Regions from separate parts of the Homo sapiens genome. Here region 1 is linked to region 2. Evidence: fine-mapped expression QTL. Tissue or cell type: whole blood. Region 2 holds a variant in brackets; the other region holds the start of a gene. All regions are shown on one strand. Distances are from middle to middle. Region 1 holds the start of EFCAB12 (EF-hand calcium binding domain 12). Region 2 holds the start of SNORA7B (small nucleolar RNA, H/ACA box 7B).

Region 1 (11,629 bases), 30 kb after region 2:
AGAGCGACCCAGCAAAGCTACTCCCTGATTTCTGACTCTAGAAACGGTGTGTGATCATAAATATTTGTTGCTTTCAGTCATTTGGGGGTGTTTGTTATGCAGCAATAGATAACTAGACAACTAATACACCTCCCTCTCAAGACTTCTGTTTGCTCCTCTGTGAAATGGTGTGAACTATCCCTATCCAGCCTAACCCAAGGGAATAAAATAATGATGCATCCCTAAACCCTTGGTGTCTTCATCTGGCAAATGGGGCTGCTCACCCTGGTGGTCCTGGTAGTTGCCTGGGAGGCATTTGGCTGGGCACTCTGCTCCTCGTGGATCATGTGTAAGACCTTGGCCTCTGAAGGCGTGATGCTGGGCTTGTTCTCCAGCCACCTCTTTACATCACCAAAGGACTCTAGCTCCTGCCGCAGCTTCGACCTCTGGCTCAGCCAGGTCTTCCTGTCCTCTGGCTGCTCTTGGATATCTCTAGCTTCCAGAACTTTGAAGCTGGGGATGGGCTTTGGGGGAGCCTGAGGTTGGGATGCAGGATTAAGGGGTGTCTGATCCTCCTTGCGAGGCACCATGATGATTCGCCGGCGGGTCTGAGGCAGGCGGAAGTCCTTCTGCTGGAACTGCTTGAAGCAGTGGGCAATGACCGGTTCAGGATCAAAGACGGGAGCATTTTCATTGATGGGAGTCTTAGACGGGCAGAGTCCTTGGGGTAAGAGAGTTAAAAGATGAGTTTCTCTCTGGAAGAGGACTGAAAGGAGCCAGGAAGGAAAAACACTTTTGCTCCAGGCTGGGCAACAGGGCCCTGGATCCCAGGCCAGGCTTTATCATTGTCTTGCTGTAATCGTAAGGATAATTTCATCTAATGTTACCGGGTGCTCCCAACAGCAGGCAGCAAGCTAAGGGCTCTATATGCTTTCTCTTATTTCATCTTCTCCATACCCAGCCCCCAACACCTCCCATTGGCAATCAGAATGAACTTTTAAAGATGCCAGTCTGATCTTGTGTGATCATCTGAGGCAGCACAGTATTAAGAGCAGAGGCTTTGGGGCCAGAACGTTCTTCGGTCTGAGTCCTGGCCCTGCCACCTACTGGCTGCATGATCTTGAGCAAACCACCTAACTTCTCTGTCTCAACCTCCTCATTGGTAAAATGGGCATAATGATGGTAACCTATTTTATCGGATGGGAGTGATGTTAAAATCAGTCAATTTATTAGAGTTGCTTTGTACATAATATATCTGCTATTATTGGTATATACTCACCATGCACTCATTTTGAAGCCCTTCCATGACTTTTGATAACCTTAAAATGAAGTCCCGGGCCCCTCTTCTGTCAACCTGTCCCCCTAATCCCTTGCTTCTCTTCCCTTACTATGTCCTGGATGCCTGGGCTTCTCTCTGTTTGCTGAGTGGTCCAAGCCTCATCCTGACTAGGGGTTGGCACGTGCTCCTCCCTCTAGCAGGAGTGCTCCCTCCCCATCCACACCCTGGGCACTCTTCCTTATCCTCCAGGTCCCATCTTTGCATCACAACCTGCACTTTCCTTCAGACCACTTATCACGACTGGGTACAACAAGGGCTGAAAACTGGTGGCCCTCATGCTGAATGAGGGCTGAGGTCTTGTTTTGTTTGACAACTTGCTTGATATTTTTCAATCTGAGCTACTTTGGGCTGAGGCATTGCCCTCTCCAGCTTGCCACAGGCTCCCCCATTCCTTTTTGTCTCACAGGCAGCTCATTTTCTTTATTAAGTCCTCGGTTTGGGCAGCAATTTGCCTTTGAGACCCCTGGTGCAATTATTTGGTTCATGTTTATTTTTTCTAGTAGACTATGAGCTCCATGAAGACTGTAACCCTATCTCTCTTGTTCCTGACTGGAGCCCTGACACCTCCACAGTGTCTACATATAATGGGAACTCAGTAAATATTTGGTGAGTGAAAAATGGACAGACCTATGATGCTGGTACTATGATTATGCCCATTTTGCAGATAAGGACATTGAGGCCTAGAGAGGCCCAAGGTCACTCAGTTGATTAGTAGCAGAGCTGAGACATGAACTTCAGTTTGTCTGGCCCCAGAGCTCGGCTCTTAGCTGTTACTTGATATTACCCAGGGCTGTCACCCAATCCTGCTGAGTCTCAAGTATTTTACTTCTGAAATGATATAAACTCTGCTCTATCTACCTCTTGAAGTTGTTATGAAGATCAAATGAGATAACAGTTTGGAAGTGTTCTAAAAAATCAGAAGGGGCCAGGCATGGTAGCTTATGCCTGTAATCCAAGCACTTTGGGAGGCTGAGGTGGGAGGATTGCTTGAGCCCAGGAGTTCAAGGCCAGCCTGGGCAAAATAGTGAGACCTCATCTATACAAAAAAATTTAAAAACTAGCCGGGCATGGTGGTGCACGCCTGTAGTCGCAGCTCCTCAGGAGGCTGAGGTGGGAGGATCACTTGAGCCTGGGAGGTCAAGGCTACAGTGAGCTGAGATTACCCGCATTGTAATCCAGCCTGGGCAACAGAGACCCTTTTTCAAAAAAATTTAAAAAAATCAGAAGGGATATAACAATCTTATTGGAAATACTGTCACTGTCATTTTCCTCCTAAAACCCAAACTCCCTTGCTTAAAACCTGTCCATGGCTCCTAACTGCCTCTAGAGTAAAGTTCAAGCTCCTTAACCTGGCCCCACCTGGTCCTCTCACCCCTACCAGCCTCTCCGATTTCTCTGGCTCCTTCTGCCTTCCCTTACGTTTGTATCCAAACAGATCTGCCCCACCAACACACACAAGCCATGCTGTTTCCTCCCTGTGACATGCTCTTCTCCCTCCCTGCTTCACTTCTTGATCCCTGACTCACCCTTTGAGACTCAGCTCAGGCATCCCGGCCCCTTGAAGCCCTCCCACTCCCCTTCTCATGGGCCCTCTGGGTCCCATAGCCCCCACACTTAGTCCCATCATAAGCATTTACCATATTTTTCTGAAATGAAGATACTTTCTGCATCTTTCTTTCCCAACAGCCTGTGAGTTTCCCAGTGACCAGGACTGTGTCTTAGTTCCCCTGTGTCCTCGGTGCCCAGCCTGGCCCAAAGTGGACATTCAGTACATTTGTTAAGTCTCTTTACAAGGCCCATGTGTTCCTTTCAGAGTCAGCAAATAAGAAAAGTAAACATCATGGTATGGTTTGCATCTGTGTCCTTGCCCAAATCTCATGTTAAATTATAATCCCCATTGTTGGAGGAGGGGTCTAGTGGGAGGTGATTGGATCATGGGAGAGGACGTCCCCCTTGCTGTTCTCATGAGAGCGAGTGCTCACAAGATCTGGTTGTTCAAAAGCATAGCACCTCCCCCTGCTCTCACTTCCTCCTTCTTGGGTTATGTAAGATGTGCCTGTCTTTGCCTTCTGCCATGATTGTAAGTTTCCTGAGGCCTCCCCAGCCATGTTTCCTGTACAGCCTGAGGAACTGTGAGTCAATTAAACCTCATCTCTTTATAAATTACCTAGTCTCAGGTAGTTCTTTATAGCAATGCTAGAACAGATATTACACATCAATAGGGATGGAAGCGAACACTTCTAAACAACACATGTATCATTACTTTGACCACAAGAAAGTTCATTCCCAGCAGGGGATGACTGAGAATGTAGTCATTCATCAAATCAGTATTTATTGAGAATCCCCCAGGGCTTGGTGCTGAACCAGGTGCAGATTAAACTAGGCTGGGCACCTACCGTGGTTCACCTGTTCTCAGTCCACCCAATGGAACAAGGTGGGGCACCCAGAGGGTAACAAGATGTTCTCAGTTGGGGGAGAAATGCTGACTGTGGGACCTGGGAGGGCATCAAGGAAGAGGTGTCTTTGATGTGGACCTTCAAGAATGGTCTGGCTTCATGGGGTGGAGGGGCAGGGATGGGGAAAGGTCAGGAGTGGGATTTGGGGATTTTAGGGTCACCAGACAGTTCCACATGTTGGAAGCCCACTGTGTGTAAAGGAGGAGGTTAGTGGGAAATAAGGTTGGCGTCATCTCAAATGCCAGGCTAAGAGATTGAAACTTTACCCTGCAGGCCACGGGAACACAAAACCTGCTCCCCACAGGTCTTGCTGCTCCCATTTGGGTCCTCCCTAGACCCCCAATCCATGTTCTGCCCTCAGCCAGGAGAGCCTTACAAATGTAAATTCACAGTCTGTCCCTTCCCCATTTGAAACCATTCAATGGATTCTTAGTGCTCTTTGAATAAATACCCGCCTCCTTCTGTGGCCTACAAAGCTGCCTTCACTGGCCCTGCTCCCCACTCTTCCCTTGTCACCTCCCAGCCCCCGCCCCCTCACTCATGTGGTCCCAGCTGCTGTCCTCCTTTCTGTTGTCTGAGGTGCCTTGTTCCTTCCTGGCTCTGGGTTTTCAGTTTTTGCATTTGCTGTGCCCTCTGAAGAGCACTGCATTCCCCAGGGCTTCCCCTGGCCGAGTCATTCTCCTCACAGTTCTAAACCTGCACCAGCCCCTGACCCCACTTTCCAAGGGTGCCTGCCCACCAAACCTCCTCAGGGAGCTTCATTCTAGTGCTCTTTGGAGTCCTGTGTCCATTGACAGAAAGGGAAATGGGCTCTTATAATAAAAGAGGCTGTCATTGTGTAGTTATGGGTAGAGACTATGTGACAATGTTCCTAGGAAATTGGCAAGGAAAGCTCTCAGACGCCAGCTAGTTCAATCACCTGCCCAGGTCAGGGACACTCTCCTCAATGCCACTGGCAGACTTTGCCTCTGTTTATACATCTCCTGTGACGTGGAACTTTCTACTTAACATGGTGGACACTAAACTCTGACTGCTAGAAAATATTTCCTTATATTGACCCAGAATTTGTTTCCCTGGACTTTCTACCCTTTGGTTCTAGTCCTCCCCATGGATGTCCCAGAAAACACACTTGTTCTCTCTTTTCTCAGACAGCCTATAGGTGTCTGGAAACAATTCTACTCTTTCTTGAAATTCTCCCTGCTCTTGGCTTGATTCAATCTCTTGCTATGTCCAATTCTACCTCTCCGGCTATTGTTTTTGGGCCCCTCTTTTCCTGATTACTCCTTAAAGGTTGTTGCTTCCAGGCTTATACCCAGGGTCTCTTCTCTTTTTAAATAATCCCTTCCATTCTCATGTTTCTATGACCTTCTGTATGCTGGGGACATCCATACCAATATTTTTGACTTGGAATTAGCTCCAAGTTTATACCTCCAGTTGTTCCTAAAACATCTCCACTTGGATGGCTTACAGGGTTTTTTTTTGTTTTTTTTTTTTTTTTTTTTTTTGAGACGGACTCTTGCTCTGTTTCCCAGGCTAAAGTGCAGTGGCACGATCTCGGCTCTCTGCAAGCTCTGCCTCCCGGGTTCACGCCATTCTCCTGCCTCAGCCTCCCGAGTACCTGGGACTACAGGTGTCTGCCACCACGACCGGCTAATTTTTTGTATTTTTAGTAGAGATGGGGTTTCACTGTGTTAGCCAGGATGGTCTCGATCTCCTGACCTGGTGATCCGCCCACCTCAGCCTCCCAAAGTGCTAGGATTACAGGCGTGAGCCACGGCGCCCGGCCGGGGATCTTTTTTTATTATTTATTTTTAATTGAGACAGGGTCTTGCTCTGTTCCCCAAGCTGGAGTACAGTGGCTCAATCATAGCTCACTGCAGCCTTGAACTCCTGGGCTCAAATGATCCTCCCAGCTCAGCCTCCTGAGTAGCTGGGACTACAGGTGCATGCCATTAAGCCTAGCTAACCTTTTTTTTTTTTTTTTTTTTGAGATGGTGTCTTGCTCTGTCACCCAGGCTGGAGTGCAATGGCATGATCTTGGCTCACTGCAAGCTCCACCTCCCTGGTTCATGCCATTCTCCTGCCTCAGCCTCCTGAGTAGCTGTGACTACAGGCGCCTGCCACCATGCCCGGCTAATTTTTTGTATTTTTAGTAGAGACGGGGTTTCATTGTGTTAGCCAGGATGGTCTTGATCTCCTGACCTCGTGATCCACCCACCTCAGCCTCCTAAAGTGCTGGGATTACAGGCGTGAGCCACCCCACCAGGCCTGGCTAACTTTAAAAAACAATTTTGTAGAGATGGGATCTCACTATGTTGCCCAGGCTATTCTCAAACTCCTGGGCTCAAGCAATCCTCCTGCCTCAGCTTCCCATAGTGCTGGGATTACAGGCGTGAGATACTGTGCCCAGCTACTGACAAGGATCTTAAACTCAACCAACCAAGACTGGATTTGTCTTTGTGCCCCTTCCCCCACTAACTGGGTCCTCTGAGTACGTTCTCTTATCTCTGTGGAAGACATCTCCATCTACCAGGTCCCCCAGCTGCCAACTTGAGAACCATCTTTATTTGCCTCTTCTGTGTTTCCTGACCAACCAGCCCCCAAGTCCCGTAGTTCCCTCTAGCCTGGGCCTTCTCCCTCACCTCCCAGCATCTTTAGCTTGGGCATTTGACCAGAGCCCTGACCTGTGTGCCTGGGAAAGGTGGCCAGCCTCTCCAGCTCTCCCTGTTTCTCCACTGGGCATTAATGTGTTCAGTGCTGGAGAAGCGGCATGGAGAAGACCTTCAGTCTTCAAGCTTTATAGCCCCCAGCTCTCATCTCCCCACACCAACATTCTGAGTCTGCCAACTCAGTCTCAGGTCTTTTCTGACTGCTCCCAATCCAGTCCTGCCACTCCCAGTGGCCTCTCCATCTCCTGGCTTGCAGTATCTTTTATGATCTTGTCCCTTCTGACCTCTCTCACCTCATTTCCAGAGACACCAGACCTCTTGGGTCATGCTGTTTCCTTGCCCGAAATGCTTTTCCTTCCCCTTTTGGCTTGGAGAACTCCTTTTTATCCTTTAAGCTCCAGTGTAAAGATCTTTTCCAAAAGCTTGGAACTGTTCCTCCCCATCCCATACCCTCAGCACACCTTTTACTCCTGGGTGTCATCCCTGGGCCCGGCATTTACCCCTTCTTATTCTGTAATTATCCATTTATCTCTGTCCTTTACCCGTGAAGCTGCATTGCTTTGCCAAGAACTTGGTCCCCAGCACATTACTGCCAAAACCTTGAAGACTGACGTCTTCTCCATGCCTCTCCTCCAGTACTGAATACATTAATGTCCTGCAGAGAAACAGGGCGAGCTGGAGGGCTCCCGTCACATGGGTCGGGCCTCTGGTTCCTCCAACTAGGCTCAGATAGAAATCTCAGAAATGTACATGACCTGCCCCCGACTCCATGGCAACCCTTCACCCAGAGGGGGTCGGCACAATATCTGTGGCTGAGTTTTTGCCCTCACCCCACTTTCACGCGTCCTTAGGGCGCTGAGCGCTCCCTGCAGACGCTTCTTCCCGGGGCTTACCGAGCAGCGACAAGAACAGACTGTGGTACGCTTCATAGTCGTCGTCCATGGTCGTGGTGCTGGGAGGGGGTGCTGAAGGGCGTGTGTGAATGTGTGTCGATGTGGGCTTGCTTGCGTAGGGGTACCGGGGTATCAGATAAACCGTAACTCCAAGTCGTGCGAAAGGCGCTCAGCTCAGACTGCAGAAGCAACCTGTTGCCGTGGCTACGGACGCCCCGCGCCAATTGGCTGAGCGCTGTCACGTGTTAAGAGCGAGCCCGCCCTGCCGAGCGCCTGCTGGCCCCACCTCGTTTTCGTCCAATTCTGGGAGGGGCAGCGAGCAAATCCACGCCCCGCCCAGTTCTGGGCTTGGTGAAAGGCGGGATTTCTTTGTTCGGCCCAGTAGTCCCTGAATCCAGTGTAGAAAGTCTCCGGTTTTCCCGTGAAATGTGGGATCTTCCGCAGGTCTCCATATCTCTAGGCCTCAGTTTTCTCATAGGAAAAATAGGCCCTGCCTCCTCCAGAGGGTTAGGAAGAACCAAAGTGAGCTGTGGCCAGATAGAGGTGTTGGGTATGTTCTGCCCCGCTTATGGCAGGGTGCCATGGTTTGGAGTTACAGAACCTGAGGACCAGAGAATAATAATAAACCCTTGAAATGTGCATCAACTGATAAGCAAAATGAGGTATATCCATAGGATGGCCATAAGAAGGAATGAAGTACATGCTACAATATGGATAAACCTTCAAAACAGTATGCTAAGCAAGAAGCTAGACACAAAAGGCCACGTGCTGTATGATTCCATTTATGTGAAATGTTCAGCATAGACGAACCCACAGACACGGAAAGTAGATGAATGGTTGCTAGGGGATGGGGTGAGTAATTGAAGTGACTGCTAACAGGTGGAGAGATTCTTTTTGGAGTGGAAAAAAGAAATGGAAACTTCTGGAATTAGTGATGATGGCTGCACACTGTAAATGTACTAAACCACTGAACTGTACACTTTAAAATGGTTAAATGGTGGCTTTTAGCTCAATTTTTAAAAAGTTAAAGAGAAACACCTAAGCCCTTATTCCTTTGCTGAGACAAGCTATCTTTGTGACGCTTGCAAACAGATTGTTGCCATGGGCCACATTCACACAGCACTCTTGCAAGCCAGGTACCATTTTAGCACTACATGTCTGAACTTCATAATTACCATCATTGTGTGAGGTAGACACCACTATCCCATTTTTAAAAGACAAGTTAACAGGTACAGAGGTCAGGCAACCTCACCTGCAAGAAACAGGAAAAGCCAGGCCTAGAGCCTGAGCAACCTGGCTGTGTCCTGAGCTCCCCTGGTGCAGAGCTCGCCTCCTGCATTCACACGGGCCCACACTCCCCATGGAGATGCTGGGGGAAGGTATGTGACCACCAGCCCTACCACAAAGCCACACCTGATGCCCTGAGCTTGGTGAGCTCGCCCCACCCTCCAGGCCCAGCTGGGCCCAAGGTTTCAGAGGCCCCTCTCCACCCTCTTTGGGTGTCTTGTCCCTACTCCTTACCGCTTTTGTTCCCTTCCATTATTAGGTGCCCTTCTTTCTCTCTGTGAGGGTCTGTACAGAACTTGTTTATCTTTGTGCCCCTCCCCACCACAGGGCTTTACACTTTGTGAATGCTACTTGGATGTTTGTTAAATGAAAATGTGATGGTAAACTATAAAGTGGGTTTGCCTTGGGGAGAGGGAGGTGTGGCCAGTTTTCCTGTTCTCTGGTCAAAATCTATCCTTCTAAAAACTGACACTCACTAAAGTGGAAACAACCAACTACCTCTGCATCACACTGCAGCCTGATTCGGTTCACACTGCCCTACAACAAAGGCAGTTTCCTGAACAACTGATTTATTTTTCATTTATTCAATCAATTTAATTTTCAAATTATACCTTAAAATGGTAGTTGGTAATTAAGACATAGTAACTAGTTTTTTCCCTTGGTTTCTTTCTAATAGTAAATGCTTTGGTATTTGAACTGTAACAATACTTGTAATAAAAATGGCATTAAGACTTATTTTTTTTAAGACAGGGTCTTGCTGTGTCATCCAGGCTGAAGTGCAGTGGTGTGATCATAGCTCACTGCAGCCTCAATCTCCTGGGCTCAAGGGATTCTCCCACCTCAGCCTTCTGAGTAGCTGGGACCACAAGTGTATGTCACCATGCCCAATTAATTTTTAAAATTTTTTGTAGAGACGGGGTCTCATTATGTTGCCCAGTCTGGTTTTGAACTCCTGGGCTCAAGCAATCCTCCTGCCTCAGCCTCCCAAAGTGCTAGGATTACAGGTGTAAGCCACTGTGCCTGGCCAAATGGTATAAACTCCAAATGGAAGATGAGAAATGAGTTTTCACAAAGGGACCAAGGTAAAAGAGTGAGTGAGCTGAAATGGAGCAGCAGGCCCATATTCACATTAGGTTATCAAATGGATACTGGGGTGGAATCTACAATTCCTAAGAGCTAGTGTGGAGCTGTCAACAATACACAATGCCAGAGGAATCTTATTTGTCTTTGGGGTCAGCTTTTATTTTTATTTTTTAAATATATATTTTTTGAGACAGGGTCTCTCTCTGTCATCCAGACTGGAGTGCAGTGGCATGATCATGGCTCACTGAAGCCTTGACCTCCTGGGCCCTCATGAGCTCAAATGATCCTCCTGCCTCAGCCTTCCGAGATTACAGGCATGCACCACCACGCCTAGCCGATAAAAATATTTAGTGGGCCCCTAGCTTTAGCAAGGCTGATAGAAATTTGCTTTGTATTATTGATAGTTTAGAACTATTTTTCATCTTCTGATTATATTTCATCATTGGAAAAGCCGTATTTTTTTTGGATTGTTGTCAAATAATAATTTATTTTAAAAAAATCTCAAAACATGTTCAAACACATTCAGTAGCAAAGATCCACCATTGGCACACACATTAAGAAAGCACACACACTAGGCTTCTAGTTGGGCTAATTAAAATCTCTATGGCTGGAAAGGTGGTTGGTTGTACTTAATTAAGCTTTTTTGAAGTGCAAAGCTATGCATAACAGATGAGCTTGAAAGCTGCAGAGTTTAAGATAGACTTAATTTTTCATGATTTTCCCAAAGCCAGTCATGATATTTATTTAATTTGTGGTCTTCAGGGTGCACCTGGAAGAAACATAAGATACAGAGGCAGAGACCTTAATGTAACTTAGTCAGAAATACATTTTTTAAAATTGGCTTTTTAAATGTTTGCTGGGGGACAGTACATTACGATACCATACCTAAAAGTTATAACCTTTAACCTCCTGGGATTCATGAATATTTTAAGTTATACCTTATATTAAGGTAATCTCACACAATTTACAAGGTACTGTCCAAATTACTACTCAACCATGACTTAGAATGTGGGGTGGCGATAACATGAGTCAAGTATTAATACCTCACTTTCCAGAAGGAGGTTCTAGACCGAGAGGTTAAATGGATTCTCAGGTCACAATGGATTGCTCTGATGAAGCTGGGATAGGACCATGGTCCTTCAGTTCAGGCTTGGCCAGACCTACTGGCTGAATGCATGAGGGTGAGTCTCAAGCTGAGTGGGCAGCATACCAGGCCACCCACCAGCTGCCAGGATGACCACCAGCATGCCACAGGCTGGGCATATTCAACAGGGCTGAAGCAGGACCCAGTCACCACAAACGTAGTCTGAGACCACTAAGAGAAACCCAATATGCATACATTGCAGGCCCAAACCTTCCTGCTTTCCTGTAGTGGTGTACTTTTGACAGGAGGAAAACCACGTCAGGCTTAGAGATAGCACACAAATAGGGAATGACAGGAACAGGGCCAGAGGTGACAAACCACTGGAGATGAGTCAGAGGCCACGCCGCTGGACTGGTCTTTGTGGACTTGGGAGCGCCTACTGATCAAAAACCCCAAAACCCACATGCCACCCGCTTCCCCGCAGCCAGGAACACAATTGTTTGTGACTGTAATAGCATTTGTATCCAATAAATAGTCTTAACCATAATGGTGGACTTATTTTGCCTCAGAGACCAAATGTGCTGAATTATGGATGGGAGTGAGCCTCACCTGCTTCCACTCATTGACACAAAAAATTCGGTAAGAGTCGTTGCCATATTTACCAATCCCATGAAGCTCAATTGGATACTTCCACTGCTTTGTCAGGTATTCATCTGAAGAATACAACATCCCACATTATCAGGTCAGCTTCTAAAGACACCCTCCCAAAATGTGTGGTGATGGGGCAGGATGGAGAGAACAGCAGAAAGGGACAGGAAAGGCTCTTTCCCAGCAACCCC
Region 2 (11,774 bases):
AGGGTCCTGGTGGACTGGAGGCGGCCTCCCAAGCCTGGGAGCTGTGTGCCTGGATGGTCTCACTGGGGTGATGACCCAAGCTCATGGCTCCCTCTCAACCTCTAACCCTTCTTAACACAGTCACCCCTGGTCCCCTGAGCACTCACTGAAGTCCCTTTGAAGGACATTTCTAGTCTCCTAAGATGCCTGTTTCCTCCAGCTGCCACCCTCATTTCACCAGCCAGGTAGGCAGGTTTTCCAGCTTCGTGCTGGCATAGAGAATCCGTGCCATAGCAGCTGCCAAAAGGAAAGGTGTGTCTGTAAAGGCCCAAACTAGGCGGGGACAGTGGCTGCTTTCCAAGCCCCTTCCCTTTGTCAGCTCCAGGGAGAACCAAAGGCCAGCCAGGGGGCCTGTCTTCTATTGGGTCCCAGCATCAGGGTATACAATGCGCTTTCCTCCCCTTCTTAAAATGTATCATATATTAGGCCGACCTAATACTCTGAAAGCACATTTACTCTGAAAGCAAATGAGGGAAAAAAGCGAGCTAATTGTTCAAGTGGATTTTTAGCATACATTGACTGTACTTTCCTGACACATGAGTGTTAATCATGGGGAAAGGAGTGCTTTTTTTGTTCTCAGTGAGGCTGACACAAAGTACTCTCCACAGGGTACATTATTCCTGAGACAAACCACTTCTTACCAGTAACATAGACCTGGGCTGTAAGTGCTCCCAGTTTCCCTTTTTGAAAAGCTCCACCTTTAAAAGCTGCCTCAACTCTGGCAAACTCCCACGTGTGTATTTTGGGTAACTACCCTGAAAAGAGGTGGTGTTCTGAGGCTGTTTCTCACACATTGTAGGGCCTGCCCAGAGAAGCTGGGCATACCGCTTCAGAGGTATGCTGAGGCCGAAGGAACACAGGCCCTAGGCCTGATCCCTGAGCCTCCAGGACCACAGCCATCTCTTCCTTCTCAGGTCCTCTCCTGAGCACCTTCCCTGCCTCAGATCCCCCCATGGCCTCCTGCTGTCCCACTGTCGGATCAGGTTCTCACCCCTGCAGACCTGACCTCAGCACAGGATCCCTAACCATTCAGCCGAGAAGCAACTAACCAGAGAGAGGTTTGCTTGTTATCTGTTCCAGGAAAGTAACTGGGGCAAAGACAATGTGATGATTCTCTAGTTCAGGGCACAGAATGTTTGCTGGTGACTCAGAGAGGGCATGGAGGGCACGGAGGGCCGGCAAACACTGTAAGTCATTTTGTCTGTGTAAGTTTAGGGGAACCCATGCTCAGCCTCACTCTGAAGCATGTGGTATCACCCATATGATCTGAATAAGATGACAGGTCTCGATATGTGGAACTGTGCACCAGGTTGTCTCATTGCTGTTTAGGAACAGTCCTGTATTTACCAAACTATGTGAGAGAGAGACAGCCTGATCATGAACCCCCGACCCTGCAGACTTCATGTGCAGTGCCCCAAATAGTCTAGAAAGTGTTGTTTAGCCGATGAACAAATGCCCATTTGTGAGATGGGAAGGAAGCACTGGGGGCCAGCGTCCCTGATGCTGTCCCAGGATCCCCCAGGAACACCTGCAGGGCAGCCTGAGATCACTCTTCCCGAGACCTGGGACTCCCCCAACTCAGCCCCTCAGGGCCGGGCCCTGCCTACCTCCTGGTTGCCTGCTTCAGCCATGTGGAGCCCGCCCTTGCTGCTAGAAAACCCTGATGTAACGCTGGCACAGGAAGTTCTGATCCAGAGTGTTTTTGTTTGTTGTGCTTCCTCAGGATTTCTTTGGATCTGGAGACCCCAAAGAAACAAAGATGCTAATCACCAAACAGGCTGACTGGGCCAGAAATATGAAAGAGCCCAAAGTCACCGTGGGGATGTAAATCTCAGCAGGAGAGCACGTCAAGGCCATTGAGATCTGTGGTGACTATGTCAGGGTTGACATGAAAGTTTCCGTCTGTGCCCTGAGCATTTGGCAGCATGTCATCACATGCCACCTCTTGGCTTTGACTGACAAGGAAACAAATCGTGCGTCTCTAAATATTTAAAGCAAATGTGATAGCGATTGGGTTCCTTGGGAGACACAGAGACTGCCTGTGTTTAGCACTCAGAGCAGGCCCCACACTCACCTCTTCCTTTAGAGGGCAGTCATTGAGGAATTCTCACGCCTTGGCCTCCACTTTTCTGTGTGAATTCCTGCACCCGTGGTATAAAGAGCGCTGGGCCACTTCCTGGCTGCTGAGTCTTGGGCTGGGTGCTTCACCTTCACCCCAGACATTATTCTTCTCATCTGCAAGATGGAAATAATCATGCCCACCTCTTAGGGACCCAAGTGACAGGGCTTGGGTATTTCGGCAGGCCTTTATCCTGCTTCCCCATGGCATGGAGCTCCTGGGCCTGGCACCCCTTCCCTGCCTGCCCACCCGGGTGGCCTTTCCTCTTGGCAGCCAGGCCCCAGGGGCCCGAAGCCAGAGTCCAGGGGGAGGAGGACACGTGCCTGCCCCGGCCCCTCGGGAGTCCGTGGCTGTTTTGTAGGAGTTGGTGCCCTTGTGCTACCGCTGCTCCACCAACAACCCGCTGCTCAACAACCTGGGCAACGTCTGCATCAACTGCCGCCAGCCCTTCATCTTCTCCGCCTCTTCCTACGGTGAGTCCCTGCATCCTGAGCATGTGGGTGGGACAGCCTGTGGACGGCTAGGCTCACTCCACTGCTCTCTGGCCTCAGGACATTGGGCAAGGGCCAAAGGCCTCTGAATGTCCCTGTTTATGAAATGAGGACACTCTGACACCCACCTACCTGACACAAGGAGTCACTGTCGGTGTTCCCAGAGATAGGACCCACTGCTGCCCAAAGCTGAAGCACCCACTCTGGGAACCTGGCGCAGGGCTTTACATAACCAAATGCCCCAGGAAGAGAGTCCGATGGCTTTGCATTCAGACCAGGAGGCTGAGATAGGTTTTCAAGGCCCAGCTCCTTTGATGTTGACAGAGGATCAGAAGCCCCTTCCCAGGAGCTGAGCAGAGGCCACACACACACAGAGACTGCCCCTGCACACACACACACACACACACACAGAGATTGCCCCTGCACATACACACACACACAGAGACTGCCCCTGCACACACACACACACTGCCCCTGCACACACACATACACAGATGGCCCCTACACACAGACTGCCCCTGCACACACACACACACACACACACACACACACACACACAGAGACGGCCCCTGCACACACACACAGACTACCCCTGCACACACACAGAGCTAGCCCCTGCACACACACACACAGAGCTAGCCCCTGCACACACACAGACTGCCCCTGCACACACATACACACACATACACACACAGAGACAGCCCCTGCACACACACACACCGACGGCCCCTGCACCCACACAGACTGCTCTTGCACACACACACACTCACACACATACACAGAGACTGCCCTTGCACACACACACACAGAGACTACCCTTGCGCACACACAGAGACTGCCCCTGTACCCCACACAGACTGCCCCTGCTGCCTCTGCTTGCCTATTTTTTTTTTTTTTGTATTTTTAGTAGAGACGGGGTTTCACCGTGTCAGCCAGGATGGTCTCGATCTCCTGACCTTGTGATCCGCCCACCTCGCCCTCCCAAAAGTGCTGGGATTACAGGCGTGAGCTTGCCTAGTTTTTTAAACCTGCTGTTCTTGTGCAGGCATGGTGGCTCATGTCTGTAATCCCAGCACCTTGGGAGGGCGAAGCAGGAGGATCACTTGAGCCCAGGAGTTCAAGGGTGCAGCAGGCCATCATCATAGCTGTTAATGGCCACTGCATTCTAGCCTGGGCAACAGAGTAGAAACGTCTCTAAAAACAAACCGTAAACACTACCTAGCACTAATGTCCTGTGACCCCTCCTTGCACTCTCCACCTTTGTGTAAAGTACTCTCTGTCCACAAAGTCTTCCTCTTATTCTCCCTCTAGTTCACATTTGGTTGTAAAGCCTCCGTACCCCTGAAAATACCCCTTACCAAAGCATAAAGGGCCTCTTAAAGTCTGAGGCCTATGTTTGATCTTCCCCAAATTCCCTCATAAATAAAGCAACATTCTGGAAACAACAGCCAAAAGATATTATATTGAAAACCGGTGATTACTGCTGTGTTCACTGTGTCAAGCAAAGTCCATTTTTCTGGTCTTGGGACTCCACAGCTATGAGGACAAAAGTCTCTCCCCTCTCCAACAAAGGAAACACACTGAACTCCCCAAGAAGCATTCTCTTTTTCCTTTTGGGATGGAGTTTCACTGTCGCCCTAGGCTGGAGTGCAGTGGCGCGATCGTAGCTCACTGCAACCTCTCCTGCTGGTTCTCCCACCTCAGCCTCCTGAGTAGCTGAGATTACAGGCGTGTACCACCACGCCCAGCTAATTTTGTCTTTTTAGTAGAGATGGGGTTTCGTCAAGTTGGCCAGGCTGGTCTCGAACTCCTGACCTCAGGTGATCTGCCCACCTCGGCCTCCCAAAGTGCTGGGATTACAGGCATGAGCCACCACACCTGGCCCCAAACAAGCATTCTCTAAACTCCTGTAAGGAATGACTTCACATTCCCTCAGAGAATGTCAGCTTCCCAAAATGCATCCCAAGAGTTTCCAGAGTTCCTGCCAGAAGTGCCCGCACAGATGCAAACTTCAGACCCCTGAAACCAGAGATGGACCCAACTCACTTGTTGCATATCAGCAGCACTCTCAGCTCCTTGACATTGTGGACCAGGAACTTCCGGAAGCCACTGGGCAGCACGTGCTTTCTGGTTTTTTTTTTTTTTTTTTTTTTTTGCTCCTATAACCAATGCTGGGCATCATATCAAGACCTGGCCCTTGAACCTTCTATGAACCCTGTTGTCAATGCCTCTGGGTTTCCACCAGTTACGCTGAAGGAAATAATACACAGGTGGGTTAGCATCTGTGCAGACTGCCAACTGTTCCATAGGGGAGGGAAAAAAGGACCAAATGAAAAGGAAGTATGCCACACAGTAGTTGCCTTTGGTAATAGGACTTCACTATTTCCTTACATGCTTTTTTGGTGGGAAAAACCAGGAGCTCGTGGCTTTTGCCACTAGGAAGGCAGGCACCCCCGCCATTCTCACTCCCAAGAAATGGAGACACCAATGGGATGCGAGGGGACTGTGTAGATATTGAGATGGCGAGCACAGGTGCAGACACTGCTCTCAGCACCTCTGAGTTTTCTTGTCTATAAAATAGGGATCCTGCTGTCATAAGGCAACCCAAAATACATGATACAAATGCAAAGCCCTCCAAACATATCAAAATGGCCAAGTGTCCCTTTTCATTAAAGTTTCACTTCACACATCAAGAGACGTAAGTACCAGCACTAGGGCACACTGGGGGAGACCTGTATTTCCACAGAAAGCTCTTCCACAAACCAGTTCATCGGTCAAAGGTAATCCTGACTAGGTGATGTCAGAACTGGCAGCCTGTTGGAAACTCCTTTCTTCACCCCACACCCATTTCCATCCCAGGACCACACACCTTGATTTTGACATATCGGTCTGACTGGTGCCGGATGAATTTCTTGGTTCTCTTTTTGACGATCTTGGGCTTCACAAGGGATCTGAGGGCAGCCATGATGCCTTTTGGGGAAGAAGTAGCCCCAGGTGAGGAAGAATCCTGGAAGGAGGCTTTCCCGCCCAGGGACTGAACACTGTCGCAGAGTGTCTTCCAATCACCAGCTACGGAGCAAGCTGGGAATGGAATGGGTGCCTCTGCCAGGCTTGCTTTCCCTCCCTTTCCGAAGCTGGCAGAATACTAGGCAGTCTCCAGATGCGATCCCAGGAGGTCAAGGGTCACCTCACCCACTCAGAGCCCAAAGAATGCCAACAGCTGAGCAAATCAAAACTGACCCCAAGACACTCTCAATTTGCAAGGGGCAGCAAATCCCACCCTGCCAGTGTCTGAACCCCCAGATGGTCCTTCCGGTAGTACTGGCCTTGACCATCTACTTGAACTGGAGTCTCAGTTTCCTCACCTGTAAAATGGAGACGACATTGTGTGCTGAATGCCTGCAGTACCTGTCACAGGGTAAATGTTCAATAAAGAAAACCTTCTAATTCCCTAGGTAGCAGCTGCGCTACCACACCCCCAACACACACAAAACCATCATATCCCTCTAAGGATGCCTCAAACCTGGAGATCTTCCATTATCAACTCACAACTTCCTCAGTGTGGTCTTCTGAGCCATTCATTTATTTCCTACAGCAGCACCCCTTCTGTTCTCTTTGCAGCCATCAGTTGGCACAGAGTGGGTACTCAATGAACCACGTATTCAAAACAACTTTGCCTTCTGGCCCATGATATCCTTGAAGGCAAGGGGGAAGTTTCATCTTTATATTCCCAGAGCTCCTGACGATCAAAATCTCTGTTAACAACTGAGTGAGCTGACCTGCACCCCATCTTTTTTTTTTTTTTTTTTTTTTTTTTTTTGCAGTCCCACCACAGCAGCCCTAGGGTCACAGGCTAGAAGGAAAGGAACGTGGGGTCATGGCAATGAATGAATGCACGTGGGCCAACATCAGTAAGCACGGTATAAACCGAAAAATAAATTCTAAGCCCCCCACCCAACTGAATGGACTCCTGCTCTTGGCCAAGGGCATTCCAAAGTTAACCTGAAAAACTAGTTCAAGCCATAATGGGAATGTGGGGTCGAACTTGCCTCATTATGCCCTTCTCCCTATGGAATTCAGGCACAGCTGACCAGCGTTAGCATTAAAAGAGATCCCAAGACTGACAAAACAGACTTTGTAGCAATAAGACACCAAATTTCAACCTGACTCTAGTATAGCATCACATGACAGATTGCAGGCCCTGAAAGAAACAGAAGTACTTTACCCAAAAATATATTTCTTTGACATATTCTGACATGGCCCTGTAAAGCTGTCTCTTGTGGGGACAATCTACGTCCTGTAGTGAATCCCCCTCCCTTTCCAGGTCTTCTCCCTGAGCCAGGAGAGGCTCCACTAAGACTTTGGCACCTTTTCAGGCCTGGTAAGAAACATTTACGATCTACTCTCTTTGAAGCCCGCTACCTGGAGGCTTCCTCTGCATAAATAAGAACCTTGGTCTCCACAACCTCTT[A/C]TCTGAACCCAGGCATTCCTTTTTGTTGATTCCAAGTCTTTAGACAAACTCAACCAATTGTCAAATCTACCAACAGCCCGGACCAGGCCCCCCAACACACCTCCCTAAAATGTACAAAACCAAGCTGCACCCCAACCACCTTGGGCACATGTTCTCAGGACTTCCTGAGGGCTTTGTCACGGGCCGTGGTCACTCATACTGGACTCAGAATAAGTCTTTTCAAATACTTTACACAGTTTGACTCTTTTCGTCAATAGACGCAAAGCCCAACCACCACCCCGGCTGCCTGCTTCACTCTGTTCGTGTACGCGCTCCAGCAAGCCGACAATACCCACAGACACAGAGTGGTAGGGAAGGCCTCCTTACCAGGGGACCATAGGGCCAGATGAAGCCTGCAGGAACGCAGATGGCCACGGATTAAGACTCACTCAGGCCGGGCGCGGTGGCTCACGCCTGTAATCCCAGAACTTTGGAAGGCCGAGGCGGACGGATCACTTGAGGTCAGGCGTTCCAGACCAGCCTGGCCAACATAGTGAAACCCACTCTCTACTAAAAATTCAAAAATTAGCCAGGCGTGGTGGTGGGCGCCGGTAGTCCCAGCTACTTGGCAGGCTGAGGCAGGAGAATCGCTTGAACCCCGGAAGCGGAGGCTGCAGTAAGCTGAGATCGCACCACTGCACTCCAGCCTGGGAAGCAAAGTGAGACTCTGTCTCAAAAACAAACAAACAAACAAACTCACCGAGCAGGAAAAAGAAGCACCAAGGAAGAGAGAAGGGATGAGAGAGCGCCGGGGCTGATGGGAGGTAACCTCTGGGTCCTGACAGGGAAAAGGCAAGCACTTCCGGCTCCGGGTCCTTAAAAAAAAGACATGTCAAAGAAAGAGTGCTGCAGAAATGCCGAATTTAACTGTTTTAATAGAGAGTAATATCTAAGAATGTAAAGGAAAATTTATCTTACCTGCCCTTGGCACTAGTTAGAAAGTTGGAATTCTTTCTGAGTTGAGACCTGGTGTAGGGAGGAATCTACTTCCGCCAGAAGTTGAAGCCAATCTAGCGTTTGGGCTATTTCCGCCCTTGTTTCCTCTACTCCGAAGTGCGCTTCCTAGCGGTCAGGAGAGATCAAGACCGACTTCCCAAAATTCCCTCACTGAATTTACATAGTAAATAGTGATGAGACCGGAACCGCTAACGTACGATGGGCCTACCACAATTCTATAATGTAACCTATTATTGTCTCTATTTTGCATATGTGGAAGGAGAATTTTGGAGATTTTACTCCAAGCTCCACGCTTCTAACCATTAGTCTAAACTACCTTGCTTTGTTTTGTTGGTTGTTTTGTAGAGTTATGGTTTTACTATTTTGGCCAGGCTGGTCTTAAGCGATCTCTCGCCTCAGCCTCCTGAGTAGCGGGGATTACAAATATGAGCCATTGTTCCCAGCTACTGTCTAATTTTTAAGCTTGTTCTTGATTTGCTTAGCTTTTTTTTTTTTTTTTTTTTTTTTTTTTTTGAGAGGGAGTCTCACTCTGTTGCACAGGCTGGAGTGCAGTGGAGTGGCAAGATCTCGGCTCACTGCAACTTCTGCCTCCCAGGTTCAAGGGACAAGGGATTCTCCTGCCTCAGGCTCCGTAGTAGCTGGGATTACAGGTGTGCGCCACCACACTCGACTAATTTTTTTTAATTTTCAGTAGAGACAAGGGTCTCACTATGTTGGTCAACCTGGTCTCAAACTCCTGACCTCAGGTGATCTGCCCACCTTGGCCTCCCAAAATGCTGGGATTACAGGCGTGAGCCACCGCGCCCAGCCCTTAGCTTTTGTTTTTAAGATTATTTTGAAAATCAAATTTCAGGAGGAAAAAAACCTCCTAGATTCCACTCCTGGAACACAGTACAGATGTCACTGGCGATCTTGACAGGGATAGTTCCAGGGACCAGATGGGGTCAGAAGCTAAACTGGATTGTATTGATGACTGAATGAGAGAGAGGTGAGAAGGGTGTGTTAACAACTCCATGGTGAGATTTTTGGGTGTGAGGAGAATGGGGAGTTTGAGGAGACCCAGAGAAGTGGAATGTCTGAGGTCACACAGCTGGCAAGCCGTAGTGCTGGGGCTAGAACCCTGCTGCATCTGTGGCTATTCCACACCTCATGAATCTTGCTTATCCTGCAGGCTGTATGTAGTGAGATGGGATGCGGAGCAGGGAAGCACATTACTAATGGCAGCCTGAATGATGCCTGTCATGAAAGAAAAGGTCTTGATTGGGTCAAGTGGGTTCATCAACTGGGAGGGTTCATGAACCACAGAGCCTGCCTTCAGTTTCCAAAGACCCAAGAGATTTGGAAGCAGTAACCTGATGGCTCAGTCTTTGTGGGGTACGGGACATGCTGCCACCTCACTTCACAGAGGAGAGTACGGGGTACCCACACTGCTTCCCTGTGGGCACTGGGGTCCCAGGACAAGAGGCTGGAGGTGGCCTGCAGTCATCCCTGGAATAGCCCAGGGAACGTACCTGTATTCCCCCAGGCTCAAGGTTTCCCCACTGGGATCCCGGGACAAGAGGCTGGAGGTGGCCTGCAGTCATCCCTGGAATAGCCCAGGGAATGTACCTGTATTTCCCCAGGCTCAAGGTCTCCCCCCGGTCACAGCTCCTGAGCAAGAAATCACATCAGCTGGGTCACAGGTGAAATGAGAAAAACTCCAACCTGCTTTATGTAGAAAGGGCAGAGGTCAGGGGAGGGAAATAGTCAAAAACTGCACGTCATTCCTTGGACACATCTACCCTCTGAGACACTGGACACTTTGAGTCCAGAGGGAACTGGCCCCCGGTCCATCCCTCTTTGAAAGGATTTCTTTAGTTTGACTCTTTGACACTCCTCTTGTGTCTGGGCTCTGGGCCGCTGGCTGCACTGGCCCCTGGCCCAGGAAGGCTGGGTCCGGCAACACCTGGCTAGCTCTAGTTGATGTAGTACACCTTGGCGGCATCATAATGGGCGTGGGTCATGTAGTTCTTGTTCCTAAGGGGCCACCAGTGGTCAGGGTGGTAGGTGGCTGGGTAGACATGGGGCTGGTGTTGAACACAACTGAAGAGCGCCAGGCTCCGGTCTGTGGCCACAGTGGGCAGGTAGAGCTGCAGCTTATCCAGAAGATGACCCGGCCAGAAGGAATTGGGGTGTGTTTGCTGCAGACCACTGGACCTCTTCACCTTCAGCTTCCTGGAAAACAAGAAGACACAGGGATGGTTGTCATGGCAGACAGGCCAGAGCTGAGGCTTCATCGCAGAGCCCACCAACTGTGACCAAAGTGGAGATTTAGCACTGTGCCAAGCACTTCAGCACCTCAGTCCTCCCCACAGTTCCATATGGTCAGCTCTGTTATCCTGTCGACCTCACCTGTGAGGACCCAGAGGCCTGGGGAGGCCGTCGCACACTGAGCAAGTGGCCAAGTGCAGGCTTCATTCCTTGTCCAATGCCTCTAAACTCAAAGTCTTAAGCGCGAACCATCTGTTATCTGGAGGCATTTTAATGTGGTGTTTGGAGTACGGCCCCTGCAGCCACCCTAGCTGGGTTCAGATCCCCACTGCATCACTTCGTAGATGTGCGACTCTGAGCATGATATTTACCCTGTCTGTGCCTCAGTTTCCTCCTGTGTAAAATGAATATGCTTAGTGTCACTTCGTAGGGCTGTTGGGAGGATCTGAGTGAGTGAACACATGGAAAGCCCCAGAGCAATGCCTCCTGGCCCTCTCTGTGTTGTGTCACTGCCTCTCAGGCCAGGGCACCGAGCCCCAGCTGTTGTGCCAGGAGTGCAGAGTCCCAGTTGTCTCAGGCGAAGCTGCCCCTCCTCCCACCTTCCTTCCTTGTGGAGTTAGATGATTGCCACAGACCTGGTAAATTCCTCAAACTCCTTAAAGCGCATTTTCTTGCTTTTCTTTGGCGTTTTCCTAGTGGAGAAGAGAGAGGCATTTTGTGAGGAGAGTGGAAATCCAGGCCAATGGGGCTTTAGGGAGTAGGTCAGGGCCGCAGGGGTGGACCCGTTTCTAAGTCTCAAACGAGAGCTCTGAAAGAAAAATGTCTTCCACCTGGGGTGGACCCTGACTCTGTGCCTCCATGCTCCAGGGGAACACAGTGGGCTTGGGTCAGCTGGACCTACCCTCAGAATCTGGCCAGGTGACCTGGGCAAGTCACTTCCCCTTTCTCATCCTTGGTTTTCTCATGGTCCAGAATAGAGACCTCTCAGGGTAGTTACGAGGGAGGCTCAGTAAGTCACTGCCAAATCCTTTTGGGGTCCCTGGCTCCTACTCCCCACTCCAGAGCTTAACCCAGCCCTGAGGACAAAGGTGGTGAAATCTAACCCCCTTCCCCTCCAACCCTGAGCCTGACAGACATCACTAATCGTTCACGGCACTCTTTCCCACCCAGCCTCCATCAACCATAAGTAGCAAGATACAGTCAACGTCTCTCCTTGACCTAAGAGAACTCTCTTTATCCTTTATTAGCTATGGCCTACCTAAGCATGGACCAAAATCCCCTTCCTGGGTTCCCAGCCACTTCCTGGCCCACCCCGGGGCTGGAAGGAAGTCACAGCCCGTGTCATGGCCAGGACCCACCTGCAGGCCTGGGCCTACTCCTGCACTTGAAGATGCCCCAACCAGAGCAA

The links. PIP is the estimated chance that this variant, and not a neighbour inherited with it, causes the effect.
Region 1: it holds the start of EFCAB12, and the variant in region 2 is fine-mapped to the expression of EFCAB12 in whole blood (TOPMed, PIP 0.91).

What each region holds. Positions count from the first base shown.
Region 1 is chr3:129,421,104-129,432,732 of GRCh38, forward strand. EFCAB12 (EF-hand calcium binding domain 12) reads right to left here and starts at 7,533. Exons shown (of 9, transcript NM_207307.3): 1 at 7,337-7,533; 2 at 264-700. The coding sequence starts at 7,385. It overlaps MBD4 (methyl-CpG binding domain 4, DNA glycosylase), which reads right to left. Exons shown (of 8, transcript NM_001276270.2): 7 at 11,400-11,503; 8 at 9,844-10,475. The coding sequence ends at 10,398. RefSeq lists an enhancer at 3,438-3,487 and a silencer at 7,670-7,719.
Region 2 is chr3:129,391,522-129,403,295 of GRCh38, forward strand. It overlaps EFCAB12 (EF-hand calcium binding domain 12), which reads right to left. Exons shown (of 9, transcript NM_207307.3): 8 at 11,002-11,058; 9 at 9,800-10,330. The coding sequence ends at 10,072. It overlaps SNORA7B (small nucleolar RNA, H/ACA box 7B), which reads right to left and starts at 5,827; the gene lies at 5,689-5,827. It also overlaps the pseudogene RPL32P3. RefSeq lists an enhancer at 3,195-3,891. The variant A/C (reference allele first, on the strand shown) is at 7,121.